Linked DNA regions of Homo sapiens: region 1 is linked to region 2. Evidence: fine-mapped expression QTL. Tissue or cell type: unexposed skin. Region 2 holds a variant in brackets; the other region holds the start of a gene. All regions are shown on one strand. Distances are from middle to middle.

What was found. PIP is the estimated chance that this variant, and not a neighbour inherited with it, causes the effect.
Region 1: it holds the start of CLDN16, and the variant in region 2 is fine-mapped to the expression of CLDN16 in unexposed skin (GTEx, PIP 0.97).

What each region holds. Positions count from the first base shown.
Region 1 is chr3:190,384,152-190,392,335 of GRCh38, forward strand. It overlaps CLDN16 (claudin 16), which reads left to right and starts at 4,012. Exons shown (of 5, transcript NM_006580.4): 1 at 4,012-4,292. The coding sequence starts at 4,179. RefSeq lists a silencer at 149-443 and an enhancer at 2,269-2,563.
Region 2 is chr3:190,317,642-190,325,825 of GRCh38, forward strand. CLDN1 (claudin 1) reads right to left here and starts at 4,805. Exons shown (of 4, transcript NM_021101.5): 1 at 4,343-4,805. The coding sequence starts at 4,565. It also overlaps a transcript of CLDN16 not described here. RefSeq lists a silencer at 4,796-4,955. The variant C/T (reference allele first, on the strand shown) is at 4,987.

The DNA of each region.
Region 1 (8,184 bases), 67 kb after region 2:
ACAGCAACTGATTTTATTGTTTAGATTTTTCCAATATGCACTGGAAATTTCAAAGGGAGTTAGAAGACTATTTATAGGATATGGTATAAGTCAGTTTACTCCTTCTAATAACTCTTATTATCCTAATAAATATAGAGGGAACATTTTGTGACATTAATGGAAACAACAGAACTAACACAAAAATATGCTGTTCTTGACACAAGAGCTTGCTGTTCTGTTTAACTGAAAATGCAAGGCTGCTTCCACCTGCAGACCAAAAGGACAACTGCAATACTTCCAGTTCTACAATTACTTCCTTTAATAGACCAACAGCCACGGTGCTAGATTAAGGGTGTCACTCAACTGATCGCCAGGTGGCTCTAAAGCCTCATCCAGGAGTAGTGCAAGCACTGGGTGAGTAGGAACATGGTGCATAATGAATTGACCAAACTGTTGGTCTTAGAGATCTTGCAAAATCAATAGCCCTGGAGCTGCAAAGATGATTAGGACACTTTTGCCAGCCTAGTATCCATCCTGGAGGACCCTGAATGTTTCAGAAGGGGAAAGTCCAATATTACTCCCTCTTCTGTAAAATGTGGGGGCTCTGAGAATTAAATTATTACACATTTGCTGAGAGCCTACCATATGCCAGGTAGAATTTTAAGCATGTGGGATGCACTGGTGAACGAAAGATGTCTGTCTTCACAGAGCTTAGATGAGATAATATATCTGAAAATATTTTGTAAACCTTATTGAGCAACACACAGTAATAACTTTTCTTCATGTTTATAATAAATTGGAAAACACATCATATTTCTAACTAATATGCCTATATACTCTTATTGGGAGTGGTATTATAGCTTAAGACTGTTGTCAGAATTACCTGAATGGAGTTCTTTACTTCCTGCTTCTGGTCCACTCACTGAAGAGTAAACCTCTCAAGGACTAGGATGAGTTCTTCCAACCGTTTATTTTCTCTGTGTCCCAAGAGAAAGTACTAGAGTCAGAGTACACTGTTCATAAATGTGTGCTGGATGGAATGGAATTAAACTATAAAAGAGTTGATAAACCAAAATGTTGAAGCCTAGGGAGGGTCAGAATGCAAAAGAGATGTGTCTATATAGATTGGTGAGCAGTTTATTCTGCATCTGTGCCCTCCATCCTCACAACACCCTACACATTTCTTAGAAGTGCACTCACATCCCATCCATGAAGTGTTTACTGCTCTATCAGTTTGCATGACTCTCCTTTTTGTATCTCCTATTACATTATGGCCTCACTCACAGAAATTCACATGCAAGCCTGAATGTTTTATGTTATTCTCTAAGAGTAGTAAACTTAAATTCAGGAACAATTCTATAGCCACCTGAATAATTCCCCACTCCCTATCACATACAATGTTCAGTGACCATTAGGAGCGAATGAATGCTATAGTCTAGATTTTTTTTTTTGTGAAAGAATCTATGATTTCCAGAGATATGTATGCACATGTGTGTGTTTGCATATGAGAATGCATATGCTTAGCATTTTTTGGTCTTTATTTCTTTCCATTAAGTTCTGATATTTGGATTTGGGACCTATTGGTGCTAGTTAGGGAAGAGTTTGTAGCAAAGATGGAATTCTGATACCCTCTTTTCTAAAACTTTGTCTGTGATTTGTAGTATATAACTCTTAAAAAATTGTTTTTCTTTTGTTGTTCTAAACTCATCTCTCAAAGTATGGCCATCTGTTTCAAAATCAGAATTTTATACAAAACACATGTAAAATATGAATTCCTGGCTTCCACTCCCAATTTCCTGAATCCAAATGTCTGGGAGTGGAATTCCTGGGTTTGCATTTATAACAAGTGGCCTTACAGAGTCCAGTGTACACTCAGGTTGAAGAACTACTGCCTTGGAGTGCACTGTTAGCAGGTAAAGTACACTGTGAAAAGTCCCTGTGTGAAATGTCAGCAACAAGTCCAGGACTTTTCCTGCAAAGGGCATGTGCTTTTGGAATTGGTTTGCTCTCCCAGATCAGCAGAGTAAATCTTAATAGCATTTCAGATTTTAGGGCACAGGGAAAGATTCTCTGTGACTCACCAAAGCAGCATGTTTGTATTCCGTGGGCAATGACATTCTTTGAATGAGCACTTAAAAAACAGGTATTTTTTTTCCAACTGTTAAACAAAATAAGTAAAATAAAAGCATCTGTAATGTACCTCGCAGATAGTTATAACGATCGCTAATGTGTACAGTAATCACCCCTTCTCCTTGAGGAATATGTTCAAAGACCCTCAGTGGATGTCAGAAACGAAGGACAGTACTGGATCCTACACACACTATACGCAACAGTAGGTCAGATCACCGAGGCAGCTATTAAGTGACTAAGGGGTGGGTAGTGCATACAATGTGGAAATGCTGGCCAAAGGGATGATTCATATCCCATGTGAAGTGGGATGGCTTGAGATTTCATCACGCTATTCAGAACAGTGTTCAATTTACCACTGATGAATTGTTTATCTATGAAATTTCCCATGTAATTTTTGCAGACCATGATTAACCACTGGTAACTGAAGCCTCAAAAGGGAAATTCTGGATAGCAGGGGTGGTACTGTAGACCCTATGTATAGAAATAATTAAGCTTATATTCCACCTATGGTTTTCCATGCAGCTTTTACATTTAAATTTACGTTTTATATACTTGAATAAAATGAATTAAAATTAGAAAAAACAAAGTTTAGCCACAAAAAGTTTATTATTGTAATATATTTTGAAAAATGGTTTATCAATACTGATTTTAGCCTTTTATACTGTATATTATGATCAAATAATTTTCAAATGGAAAAAAGTAATCCTTTTATAAGCTGTTGGTAAAATAAGAATCTTAGTAGCTGATTCATGCCAGAGTAATTACCTCTTTCTGGCCTTTTCTCTGCTCCTTTCTTTCTCTCCCTCCCAATTTCTTTCTCTCACTCTGTCTCCCCTTTGACATTCTCTCCTACATTAAGAATCACCACTTTGTTTTTACTGTTCTCATTCAAAATTTTTATTTTAGTATATAGAAGTCTACCTGATGAAGAGAAAATGTTGATATATGTGCTTTTTAAAGCATATTAAAGAGTATTGGTTATGGAATTTGTAGACCCATTAAGGATACCTATTCAGATACAGATAAAATTCCAGTTGCCCCAGTTACATATTAAAAACTTTTTTTTACAAAAAAGAAACACACTTTCTTCCTAATATAACAGTTTTTTTTTCTTCATTAGACGCGTTTTCAAACATTGGTCCATGAGGGAAAAGTAATAATATAGGAAATTCTTAGTCATGTTAATATTTTCCATTTAGCTATTACTGACAGATGCTATTCTAAGCGACTTACAGGCACAATATCTTTTATTCCTCATATGAAGAACAAGCATTATATAAAGAAAATATTAATACATGCATTTTCAGAAACTACAGCCCAAGGGCTCTCAGACCATAAATTCAGAGCAAGAATTTCCACCCAGAGCTGTCTGCATTAAAATGCACACTTGTTCCCACTCTACGATGCTGAAAGGTTAGGAGCCTTGGCTGTCCCTACTGCCCAGGTGCTACAAGTCCTTCATGGGGCTGTTCTACGCAACACTTTGGAATGCAGACTCCCTTGAGCGAGCACTTGTTTAGCATAGTTTCACCAGTGGCCTGTCTGTCTAAAGTAGTCGGCGAATATTAAAATAGTCCTAACAATAAAATAACACTCAGTCAACCGTGTAGCCTTCTTCCGAGTGGGGAGGAGAATAGCTCACTCTCCCTAGAGGGCCTAAGAAAGATCAGTTTACAGGTTCCAGCATGGGGTGGGACCCTTCCTCCTTCCCCCGTCTTGGCACTGGCACTTGGTCTGGTGACCACCACTAGCCCACAGTTGGGTCAGAAAACGTTACAGAACTCCTCTCTCCCCCACCCGAAACACACTCAGCCCTTGCACTGACCTGCCTTCTGATTGGAGGCTGGTTGCTTCGGATAATGACCTCCAGGACCCCACTGTTGGTTACAGCCTGTTTGTATTATTCTTACTGCAACTCAAGACACCTGCAGCAGGGCGTGAGAAAAAGTAAAAGACCAGTATTTTCACATTGCCAGGTACCAGAAACACAGAAGACTGACACCCGCCACTTAAGTGGGGCCAGGGCTGGTGTCTGCCCATGTTGCCATCCTGATGGGCTGCTTGCCACAATGAGGGATCTTCTTCAATACATCGCTTGCTTCTTTGCCTTTTTCTCTGCTGGGTTTTTGATTGTGGCCACCTGGACTGACTGTTGGATGGTGAATGCTGATGACTCTCTGGAGGTAAGAAGATAGCAGCTTCTTTTCATGATCCAGGCCAGCCCAAATTTTCGCTAAGTCCCAACTGCCATGTACAACATTCAGTATCTTTACTAAGGCTAATGATACCAAAAATAGGCAACATGGACTATTTATTGAGTCTTTACATTATTAGCTCATTTAATCCTCATAGTTAATTTATGAGGTAGGTCTTGTTATCCCATTAAACAGATGAAGTTACTAAATAGTTCCTCCTTTTTTCACAAGGATAAATTTCCACAAGGGTAATTAAGTGATCTCTGCTACTGAGACCTCCAGAAATTCACGTCTTCCATTGCTGCATATATCATATTGAGTAACATTTCAGTACCACCCTTTTTTCTAAGATAAATTTTTTACTCTTGATGACAGCATTAAGAATAGTGTGATAGACTTTTTTTAAGGAGTGTTAATAATCTAAAACGTTGAGAAAGAAAATGCAAGGCATGCAAAACCTACCCAATTAACATGCAAGAGGAAAAAACATTATCTTAATGATTTCCAAGTAAAAGAAAAAATGTTGAGGGAGAAAATGTCTTTCCAGTGCATCCCAATGTACGGGGGACAGGCATGGATTTAAATCCTCCCTTAAAATGAGTTGCTCTAGGGAACTGACTACTATTCAAAAGATGAGTGAGTGGGTTCACATTTGAGGATTTTATTTTTCTCGCTGGAGAAGCTCAGAAAGAAGTAATTTTGAAGTTCAAAACCATTACCTGTGGCCATAGGAATCTGAGAGAGGCAGAACTGAGTAAAAAATCAAATCTTCAGAATTAGCTGCTGTTCATTAATGAGGCTTAGGAAAACACAGGTAAGAAAAAGAAACAATATTTCAAGAGCTCAAAAAAAGGAGTATATAGCAAAACAATTTGCTTTTTAATGTGCATCCTGAAGGGAACAATTTACCCTAGCAAATGCTATAATGTCACCTCTATAAAGTTTAAGAAAGATACTCGACTGAGTTTATATATTTTTCTTCTAATTTTCTTTATTAAACTCTCAAATTGGAGTTCCAAATGGAAAGTAATAATGATTCTATTTTGCTGTGCATTATTTTTGCTGCTCGCTTTTTCTTGCTTTTAATTTGCCTCTGACTTGAACATGGCATTTCAAAACCAATGGAGTTAGGAATACCTCTTTAATGCTAGAAAATTACATTTCCAAAAATTGTGATAGAATTGAACTACTGTAAAGGATGTCTGCTATAAGTGAGCCCAGTGATGCATTTTATCTGGCCATGAATATATGCAAAGAATGAAATAAATGCCCTTTGAACAGTGCTCAGGGAAAAGTGCAGATAAAACGTTCTGCTGTCATTAGTTTGCCATTATCTAGATGGCCAGTGGTAGGTGATGAATACAGAAATATGTTTAACTTGAGCATAATTATAATTATGTTTTTTAAAATACAAAAAAATGTAAAATCCCATCTAGGGGCATTGTTAAAATATTTTCTAAAACAATTTAAAAGTCTTTCTGCTTAAGCTGACATAATTGCTAACTTCATTTGATAAGAAATAGTTTTAGAAAGGGTCAAACCTTGCTGAGAGAGAGATTGAGAGTCCTGGAATTTAAAGTGTCTTCTTTCATTTTAGTATAACCAACCAATTTGCCATCTGTCCCATGAAAGAATACTTCTAGTTAAAACGAATGGAATGAGCAGTCCAGGTTACACACCTCAAGTAAACCCTTGCTAACCTTGAAAAATAGTTAATATTTCTTAGCTTCCTTCTTATTTCCCATACTTAAAATGTATTGCTATAATATTCCCAAGAAGCCTTCACATTTAAAGGAAGAGGCTGGGCATGGTGGCTTATGCCTGTAATCCCAATACTTTGGAAGGCCGAGGCGGGCAGATCACAGGTCAAGAGATTGAGACCATCCTGGCCGACATAGTGAAACCCCATCTCTAACAAAAATACAAAAATTAGCTGGGTGTGGTGGCAGGGGCCTGTAGTCCCAGCTACTAAGGAGGCTGAGGCAGGAGAATCGCTTGAACTAGGGAGGAGGAGGTTGCACTGAGCCGAGATTGTGCCACTGCACTCCAGCCTGGCGACAGAGCGAGACTCCATCTTAAAAAAGAAGAAGAAGAAGAAGAACCCTGTAACAAATCCGGCTCCCTTCTCTTTCAACAATCTCTTTAGTTGTCAATATTTTTAAAGAGACAATAATCTCTTATAATAATTGCTACTTCAACAGGCCAGGATAGAAACTTATATTTTCCACAAATTTGAAGGTTCTGATGCTAGCTCAATTGCTCTTCTCTTTTCTTGCCGCCATCCTCATTTATATATCACCTTTGGTCCATATAACAACTCACTTTATGTTTTTATTTTTATTTTTTTATAGATTTGGTCTCACGCTGTCACCCAGGATAGAGTGTACTGGTGTGATCATATCTCACTGCAGATTCAAACTTCTAGGCTCAAGTCATCCTCCCACCTCAGCCTCCCTAGTAGCTAGGCCTACAGGTGCATGTCCCCACAACTGGCTAATTTTAAAAATTTTTTGTAAGAACAAGGACTTTCTCTGTTCTCTAGGCTGGTCTCCAACTCCAGGCCTCAAGTGATCCTCTTGCCTCGGCCTCCTAAAGTACTGGGATTATAGGAGTGAACCACCACAGCAGCTCACTTTAATCCATTGTTGGACAAAAGTCAACGAAACAAGTGTTTTGTTTTGTTTTGATTTTTTAAGAAAAAAAAGGAATACCAATAGACAATTTAAATAAGAAGGAGTATTATACTTTTCCAGTTTTTTTTTTTTTTTTTAGTATATTTGGATGATGTTGGCACGGGATTTAGAAGAAGAGTTTTGTGGTTCAATTCAGTATAAAAATATATACAATTATATCATATAAAAGGAATGATGCTACTCCTACTAGAAGAGACAAAGATAAAGCAAAAATTGCTCCTGCCTCTCAGGAGTGCACATTTAATGAGGGGAAAACAAAGATACACATGAAACTATAATAAAAAGCATAAATAAATTCATATTTTGAGCAAGAAATAAACGAAGTATCATTGGGGAAGAAAATATGCGATGATTACTTCCTATCAGGGCCATCGAAGCAGGTCTCATGAAAGAAAAGGCATTTGAGCAAAGCCTTGAAACGATGTAAAGCATTTCAAATTGTAGAAATGGCAGCAGGGGCCTTTCAGATAAGGGGACAGAGTGGCAAAAGTGCAAAGAGAGGAGAAGCTCAGGGCTTGTTAGAGGACTAAAGTGGGCAACACAAAGAAGGAGGCAGAAAAAGCTCAGATATTCTTTTTGCCTACCACACTCTACCTATCTCAAATGAAGTTCTTCGTATTAGGTAAAAATGCTAGGAAAGAAAATAGCACACAGAATTACGATGTGCACAACCCTACATCAGTGACTAGAGGCCCTCAGCTACCATCCTGCTCTTGTCATTATTGATTCATTTGTGTCTCTGAGAAGACTGATAGGGAGAAGAGAATTTGGGTTTTGAGATTTTTCAAGCGTATGTTTGCATCTTAACCCTTATTAACTGCCTTCTATTAAGCAAGTCACATTTCTTGTCTTTGGCTCAGTTTTTTCAATTGTATAGTTGAACTCAGTTGTTTCTAAGGTCCTTTTCAGTCTTTTTTTTTTTTTTTTTAACATCATGTCTCCATGACTGTCTGAAACTTCAGAGAGTTGGACACTCACTAATGGACTGGTGGTGTCTGGCACTTCTCCAGACATTTCCATTGGGAATCTAGTGGAAGGATCCTCCATTTTTCTGTAGCTTCATACACTCTCCCTTCCTTCATTCCAACTTCTCTTTTTCCTTCATTTCCTTGTTCCTTCCTTCCTCTTCTTTATTCCCCCTCTCTCTTTTCCTCCCTTTTCTTAACTCTCTCTCTTTCCCTCCTATA
Region 2 (8,184 bases):
AAATATAGTCATCTCTTGGTATATAAGGGTGATTGGTTCCAGGACCACCCACAGGTAACTAAATCTGCACATGCTCAAGTCCTACAGTTGATCCTGTGGAAGCCTTGTATACAGAAAGTCAACCCTCCCTACATGCAGGCTTTGGACTCTCAGATACTGTATTCTTGATCGGTATTGGTTGAAAGAAATCCACCTATAAGTGGACACTTGCTGTTCAAACCTGTGTTGTTCAAATGTTGACTGCAGATTCCAATTCTCCCTTTGCATCTGTAGTTGCTTAATAAGTATTAAGTGAATAAATGAACTGATGATTGGGTGACTAGAACAAAAATATTGTGCTTCCTTCTCCCCTGCAATTAAATGAGCTCAACACAGACAGTCACAGAAGTGTACTCCCCTGGCTTTTCTCCATATTAAATCTTTTACTTTTACGGAAGTTCAAAGTTTCATAAAAGTCCTAATCATTAGCATTTCCCTCTTATTGGTGCATGAGGTGATGGTCACCAGATGTGAACTCAGAACATAAGCAAAATCAGGAGTGAAAATGATCCTGGATGAGGCAGGATGTACCACTTTTCAGGATGTCCTCAGAAGTTTTGCTACCTTTCTTGTTTGTGTGTTTCTTCAAGAAATTTTCTCAGAATTAAGTTGATGCTTCTATATTACCTCCATTATATTTCCTTAATCACTCCAATTAAGGAAACCTAAGCTATGTGACTTGCCTCTTCCCCTTCAATCACTGAAGTAATAACAAAGAATTCTGGCACTGGAAGGAATCTTAGAACTCATCTTAGCTGCACCATCCTTAGCAGCAAGAATAGGGCCTAGCTTGCATCTGTTGAATGGATAAACGAATCATAGATTCATCTCCCCATTCCTCCCACTCTGCCCTATTTTATAAGTGGGGTAACTACTTGAAACCAGGGAGATCAAGTGGCTCACCATTATACACTTGGCTACTTAGTGCCAAACCACAGTAAGAACAGAGAATTTCTGATCTCAAGCCTGGATTTTTGCTTCAACTTCCATTATTCTAAGAGTCAGAACTAATTTATGAAGTATATCTGAACACCAATGGCCCTTCGAGTACCCTCGGTTCAGCAGGCACAACGCATCTGGAGAAGCATAAATAGGTGCCCTCCTCTCCACTTAGGCTTCAAAGACTGTCCACGTCAGTGATTTTGTCTCTCTGATTGAGCCTGACATCATGGTGAGAGTGCTGGGGAAGCTCACAGCCACCAATACTCATTAAGCACACCTACACACATGTGGATTCATGCAAAGCAAGTTAAACAGGCTAGAGGAGCTTATAAACAAATTACAGAATCTCAGGGTTCGGTGAGATTGAGAGAGAGTCTAGCCTAACCTCCCATTTGTCTGGTGCTTGGATCTTCCCTACAACATTCCTTCAAAATGCTTATTTATTCTCTGCTTGCACACCTCCCACCATGCAGCCTCCTACAGCAACTCAATCTTTGGACAGCTCTAGCTATTAAAGTCAAGTAAGAAGAAGCATTTAAGCAAGCACATAAAATTGGCGCGAGCTTCCTAAAAGTTTGAGAATTAGATGAAAACAAGGCGAGAGGTACAGGTGAATCAAGAAAAGTCTACTACAACTGTATCTGGCACTTTTTGTATATTCCAACTTTCAGCTACAAGAATCCCCAGGGTCAATAAAATCACATACTTTGGATGAAATGGAAATTGTATCAGCCATTATAAAACTACAATACACAATGTGACATTTGTTTCCCCAGGAAGTGCCTCAGTTACATTTTCATAAACCGCTTGGCAAGAACTACCTAAAAGAAGAAGCCTTGCTCTATCTCATTTTGTATTTACTGTATACACTATTAGCACACTGTATTCCTTCAGATACTTTATGAAGGTCATATGCTTTTTATGACCTACCCTACATAAAGCAGGGAAACAACAGATTTTAATACTTCCCGTGCTAAAGCCCTGCATCTGGCCGGGAAGACAAGTGTGCTCTACTGGGAAAGACGGCAAGGTACAATTTCGGGAAACCCACAGCTAAGCTTTTCACCTAAACACACTTAATGAAATGCAGCTTTTTTCTGAGTGATACTGCTTAAATATACACACATAACCCTTTTCATCTCTACATGTAACAAAACTGTACCAAAACCAGCCAATGAATCACCATCCCAGATCTCTACAGCTGGTGGGCGTAAACACCACTGCTCAGGCAGAGAAATGAAGTAAGGTTTCCTGGGTTCTATCCAAAAGCATCCCGTGAGTCACGGCAGGTGAGAGGAGAACACCTGTGAGTCAAGGGTCCCTCTTCTGAGAATGGGTTTTGAGAGAAAGGCCTAAGCCACACCTTGGATAAACTATGGCTTTAAGTAAAATAAAAGTGGATTCTGATCTGGAGTTTTAAAAAAATAGGAAGACATCTCTAAAGTGTGTGTGGGGGGGTAGGTATTTAGTCCTTTCACCCTAGTTTTAAAAACTGTAATAACTACATTAACCAAAAAATGAAAGTAAAACATTTTAACACATTATCATGTGTAAGGATGATCCATTTGAGTATTTACAACATAGATCAATCTGATTTCATTTGGTCATTTCAGGAAGTTAAAAGAAAACCTATTTAAAGATGTTGAAAAGGAACTATTTTGATCAGAGGAATAAAACTGACAGTGAGACCTCTCTGGAATTGTCCTTAGAAACCTCCACCTGCCAATTCCTTAACGTGGTACCTAAAATGCCTGACACCGTTTCCTTAAATATATTTATCTTTCCATGGAGAAATTCAATAATTATTACCAAATTTTTCATTTTATAAGTACAAATATAACCCCTGAGGGCAATGAGCAACACATAATTACTAAACTTATGGATTGGTTTTGGTGTAAAGAAGTCCTGATATGAGAACCTTCAAAAGCTGAAATAATAACACTCAAAACAACCATGCACATTGACTGAGCAAATGCCACAGGTATTCAAGGTGTTCAAACAGATTTGGAACAGGTTTAATAACTCTAAACTATATGGCTTTTGATATACACTATTAAAAGTTGTCCCTTGATAGGAGGTAGACAAAACAAGTTAAGTAAACTTGAACAATGCCAACACTTTTCACCCTTAGCATGCAATGGGGGCCAGTGGGCAGTCACGTTCATCTAGGCAAAGACTAAGGGATCTTTTCTTCAAGTGAGTTAAAGGGCATAACAGACACATGATATAAGACAATTAATGTGATTTCTCAAGGAAGATACTCCAGCCGTGAATCATTATTATCTAAGTAAATGGGAATTTAATGACTTTTCGGACAAGGAACTCGAAACCTTTAATTTAAAAAACAAAGTAAAACAATTATCCTATTATCCTTCTTCCCACCATCCTTAGAAATATGTCTCTCTATACAATCCTTTCCAGTTTTACAGGGGGTCACTGAACATCCATTACACAGAAATTTCTTTGTGGAAGATGGAAACCTAAGGAAGACCCACCTCTTCTTTCTCTCTCACTGCCTTCCACTCCCAGCTGACCTCTGATTTCATCAGCTATGACTATTTTGCTGCATTTCCCTTCAGTGCCTTTACTTTTTTCTTTGTATTATGTTGCGCAGGTTATTTAGAACCTTTCTTGTCAGCCTTTCCCCACCTGCCACCAACCTTCTCTTTCCAAGATAGCACTACACCGTCAGCCTCTACAGAAGACCTTGGGTCTGAAAATTAAAACTTCGGGGGAATCTCAAGCAGCTTCTCCAAAGAGTCTTGCAAGGGGCCTCCCTGCACTAACTGGATCTTATAAATTAAAAGAATCAACCTCAAGCATAAGCAGAAGACACTTAGATAGGACATTTCCAGTAGGAATGTAACTTTTACTATGAAAAAATCATATTAAAGGTTAAAAAGTTATATCTAATACTTGAGGATTATTTATTTAAGCGTGCACACTTGAGAAGTTACCAGGCTTCAAACTTTTTCAGTCATCCCATTTTCTTGTCTGAACTCTACCAATCCTCAATTTACCCCAAATCTCGGAATGCCTAGGAGAGGTCTAAGAGCTCAAGTTCAAGTTTGGCCTTCACTCCCTCAACTCGAACCACCAGCATAGGAATTTAGGATGAAGCCACACCTAGAGTGGCAGAAGTGTCACCCAGGGAGTTAGAGGCAAAACTAGAGCTTATGCCTGGGCGTCGCTTTCCTCAAACCAGGATTCTCTTCATTTCCTTATGACAGAGCACATGATCAGAAGACTTGATCAACTGAAGACTGATAACCATGGAATCACACAACAGAATGAGCCCATAAGGGAGCTGCAGGGGGACTGGGGCCTCTGGACGGCCGCTGTGAGGTGGGGGTGCACTCACTGCTCAGATTCAGCAAGGAGTCAAAGACTTTGCACTGGATCTGCCCGGTGCTCTGCGACACGCAGGACATCCACAGCCCCTCGTACATGGCCTGGGCGGTCACGATGTTGTCGCCGGCATAGGAGTAAATCCTCCACTGGGGCAGGGCAGTGCTGACGATGGCGCCGATCCATCCCAGGAAGGCGAGAATGAAGCCCAACAGCTGCAGCCCCGCGTTGGCCATGACTCGCTCGGGCGCCCGCGCTGGCTCAGGGGTGGCAGGTGCAGAAGGCGGAGAGTTTGCAGGTGGGCAACCCGGACTCCCGAAGGTGGCTGGGCCCCGCGGAGGAAGTTAAGGCGGGGAGCCCTGCTCGCTGCGCCGCCGCTGGAGAAGCTCTGGGTCGGGGTTGGGGTCCGCGCCCGGGGCGGCGCTGGAGTCTGGATACTAGAAGCTGCGGTTGCTCCCAGGCTCGGGAACTGAGACGCAGAACCGCTGGGCGCCGCGATTTAAAGCAGCTCCGCCCGCCTCAGCCCCGGCAGCCGGGGAGCGCCCCCTGGCGGTTTCAGGGCGGCTCACCGAGAGGGCGCCGGGAGCGCCCGGTTGGGGAACGCGCGGCTGGCGGCGTGGGGACCACCCGGCAGGACCAGGCACCAGAGCTGCGTCC[C/T]TGCTCGCTTTCTCTCGTGGATCTTCTCGCTCCTGTAAGGCGTTTCACGCTTTTCATTCATTCACTCCAATTATCCAAAAATTACTATGCACTGTACTTGTAAATCCTAACACAAAGATGAAAAAATGATCCTTCAAGAGCTGCAGTTTTAGGTTTAATACTTTTTTCCCAATATCTTATTAAAAGGCATTTCTACCCAACTCCGCGTCTCCTCCCCCATCACACCATTTCTCTCTCCTTTGCTTGGCTTCCTCCCCCTTCTTTCCTCTCTCTGCTCTCTTCTGTCAAGGTCGTTCCATCACTTGTCTCTGCAAGGAGCCTCAGAGACTTTTACACTCTACAGATTGGGAAACAGACCCAGAGAGCAACATGATTTACACACACACACACACACACACACAGACACACTCACGCACGGAGCATATCCAGTACTTGGCTCCCCTCCCAATCTGCTTTCCACTACATATCAAGTTGACCCAAAATATCCCCTTTGATCTATGATTGTCCTTTTTGATGTATTATTGTCCTTATGAAACTGCAGGCTAGCAGCCCTTCCCCGCCAAACACCAACCTCCTCCCCACAGCAGTTATGTCTTAGAGCAGCAATTCATTATCAGAGGGACCTGGCCAGTGCCCCGCTCTCCCTGAAAGGTGTTAATTTTGTGAGTTATCAAATGTTGTTCGTCGCAGGTGAGGACATGTAAACAGCGTTTCCCCAGTGGCAAAAGGACTGGGCTGGAGTTGAGGAAGTCTGGGCTCTGGTTCCAGCTTTTACTGTGACTGGCTATCTCACCCCTCCGGTTTCGGTCTCGCTGGGACTGTAGTTTCCCTCTATGTTTCTCCAAAGCTTCCTTCTTTGTAGTTAGTCAGAAGTGCTGTTGTGGTTAGGAATCATTGAAATGTTTTTCCAACTGCTTTTTGTGTGTGGTGCGAGTGTGGTGGGAGGGGAAGCTTCTATGGTTTTAGTAAAAACAGAAGCATCTTGGAAGCAGAAATAAACATATTAAGGATAAAATAAGATATACCCTTATATACCATGGCAACTGCTAGTTGGTGACAGAGAAGGAAAGGTGCAAATTCTCAAGGTGGGAATGGGAAGAAAGGCCAAGCCCCACCACCTTCATTTCCACCTGGCTCTCCCTGGATGCCTTTCATGTAGGCTTAAAACTAAAGGACTTGGCCGTGCTAGGATTTAGGGACAAGCAATGAAGAATGTAAGACAGGAGCTAGATGAAGACAATTAATTTGGACTGAGATTAACACAGTGAATACTGTCTTTCTCCTATCAGCTGTTTAGGACAAGACCATGTTCGTGTTGTATCCCAGGGTTAGGGCCTGCAGTCAGTACTACTGTCTAGGTCTCAGTGGATGTTCTGTGGGTGCCTGTCAGTGTGGATGAAGATGTATCAATCACATTTGATTTTGTAAAAATTCCCTGATCAGAGAAGGCACTGGAATTTGCTGCAGGACTAGAGCAGTACCATGTGAATCATATAATCTCATTTTCTTCTTTTTTTTGTTCCAAACATTTAAGAATTAAAAGTATTATTAAACACCCGGGCACGGTGGCTCAGGCCAGGCGCAGTGGCTCACGCCTGTAATCCCAACACTTTGGGAGGCTGAGGCAGGCGGATCACTTGAGATCAGGAGTTCGAGATCAGCCTGGCCAACATGGTGAAACCCCGTCTCTACTAACAATATGAAAATTAGCCGGGCATGGTGGTGGGCGCCTGTAATTCCAGCTACTTGGGAGGCTGAGGTAGGAGAATTGCTTGAACCCGGGAGGCGGAGGTGGCAGTGAGCCCAGATCGTGCCACTGCACTCCAGCCTGGGCAACAGACCAAGACCCCATCTCAACAAATAAATAAATAAATAAATAAACAAATAAATGACATTTTCTGCGTTCAGTAAATATATTTGTGCACAGGCCCTTTTACTCTGCATTACAACTGGTTTCTATCAACCTACAATTAGCGGGGAATCGGAGGGATGAGTTCTGTGGTCAGCAGGGTCCCGTGTTTTTGTTTTGTATTTCAGGTCTGTGCGAGGCTGATTACTTCACTACCCACAACCATGTTTGTGAGGCTGAGGTGAATGCTGTTTGCTTCACTGTGATTCAGGCCCATCTCTAGGCATCCTTAATCCTGTCTAGTTTTCTGCTCCTAGCTTAAGTGCAGAGGACAGGTGAGATAATGGCTCAGCATAAATCTATCAACTTAAGAGGAAAAACAGCTTCCAAATACTGGCCTTTCATATCTGAAACATAAACAGTAAAGGCAGCACTGAGACCAAGAAGGCTCTAGAAAGGCTGGCAATGGTATGGTAAGTGTCCTAGCCTGTTGAGTAGTAAAATCTGCTATGTACCCTCAGACAAATTACTTCTTTTCTTCCTCAGTTTCCCTACCAATAAAAGGGATGGGGTTAATTTCTGAAAGTCACCCAAGTCTAAAGCTTTATGACTCTAAGTAATGACAGCTGGCACTTGTTGCTGTATATTTTCATCAAGTGTTGAGGTCAGAGTTTTATATGCTATCTCTACGTGCAGGTAACAGACACAGAGAGGTCAGGCTGCTTATCCAAGTTCATATTGAATATGGCAGCGCTGGAATTCCAAACTATATAATTTGACGCTCGTGTCCATGCCTTTGACTGCTCTCCTGCAGTATTTCTCTGTGTGACCCAAATCAATCGAGGACAATTTTTTTTTTCTTCTTTGGAAGAGCTTAGACATACTTATCATGTGTTTCTTGCTCCAGGCAGTGGCAAGATATTTTACTCTGTGACTGTCTCTTCTTAATATCTGTTGCAGCCCACTGAGGTTTTATACCCTGGGGATTTAGAATCATGTGGCAAAAAGTTGTTGCTGTTGAGGAGGAAGAGATGTGTAAAAACAGCAAATAGCGTACTGGTTTATTCCATGTGCTTGTGCGACTGATGCTTGGGCTTAGCCATGATCTTGAGAACCAATAATAAGTAGAAGAGATATACACATAAAAGACAGAAGCAAAGGTAAGACTGTGAGTGTCAGAAGAGAGTGTAGACAAAGAACCAAGCCTCTAAGAGGCAGCATGGCAGATTCTCAGAAATGGTTAATGATGACAGTATGAAAGCCATTGGGATGTTAATTTTTTTGCTTAGTGTTAATATATGTTAATGTTGACTTTTCAGAGCTTCTTAAGTGGTAAAAGCAGAACGAAT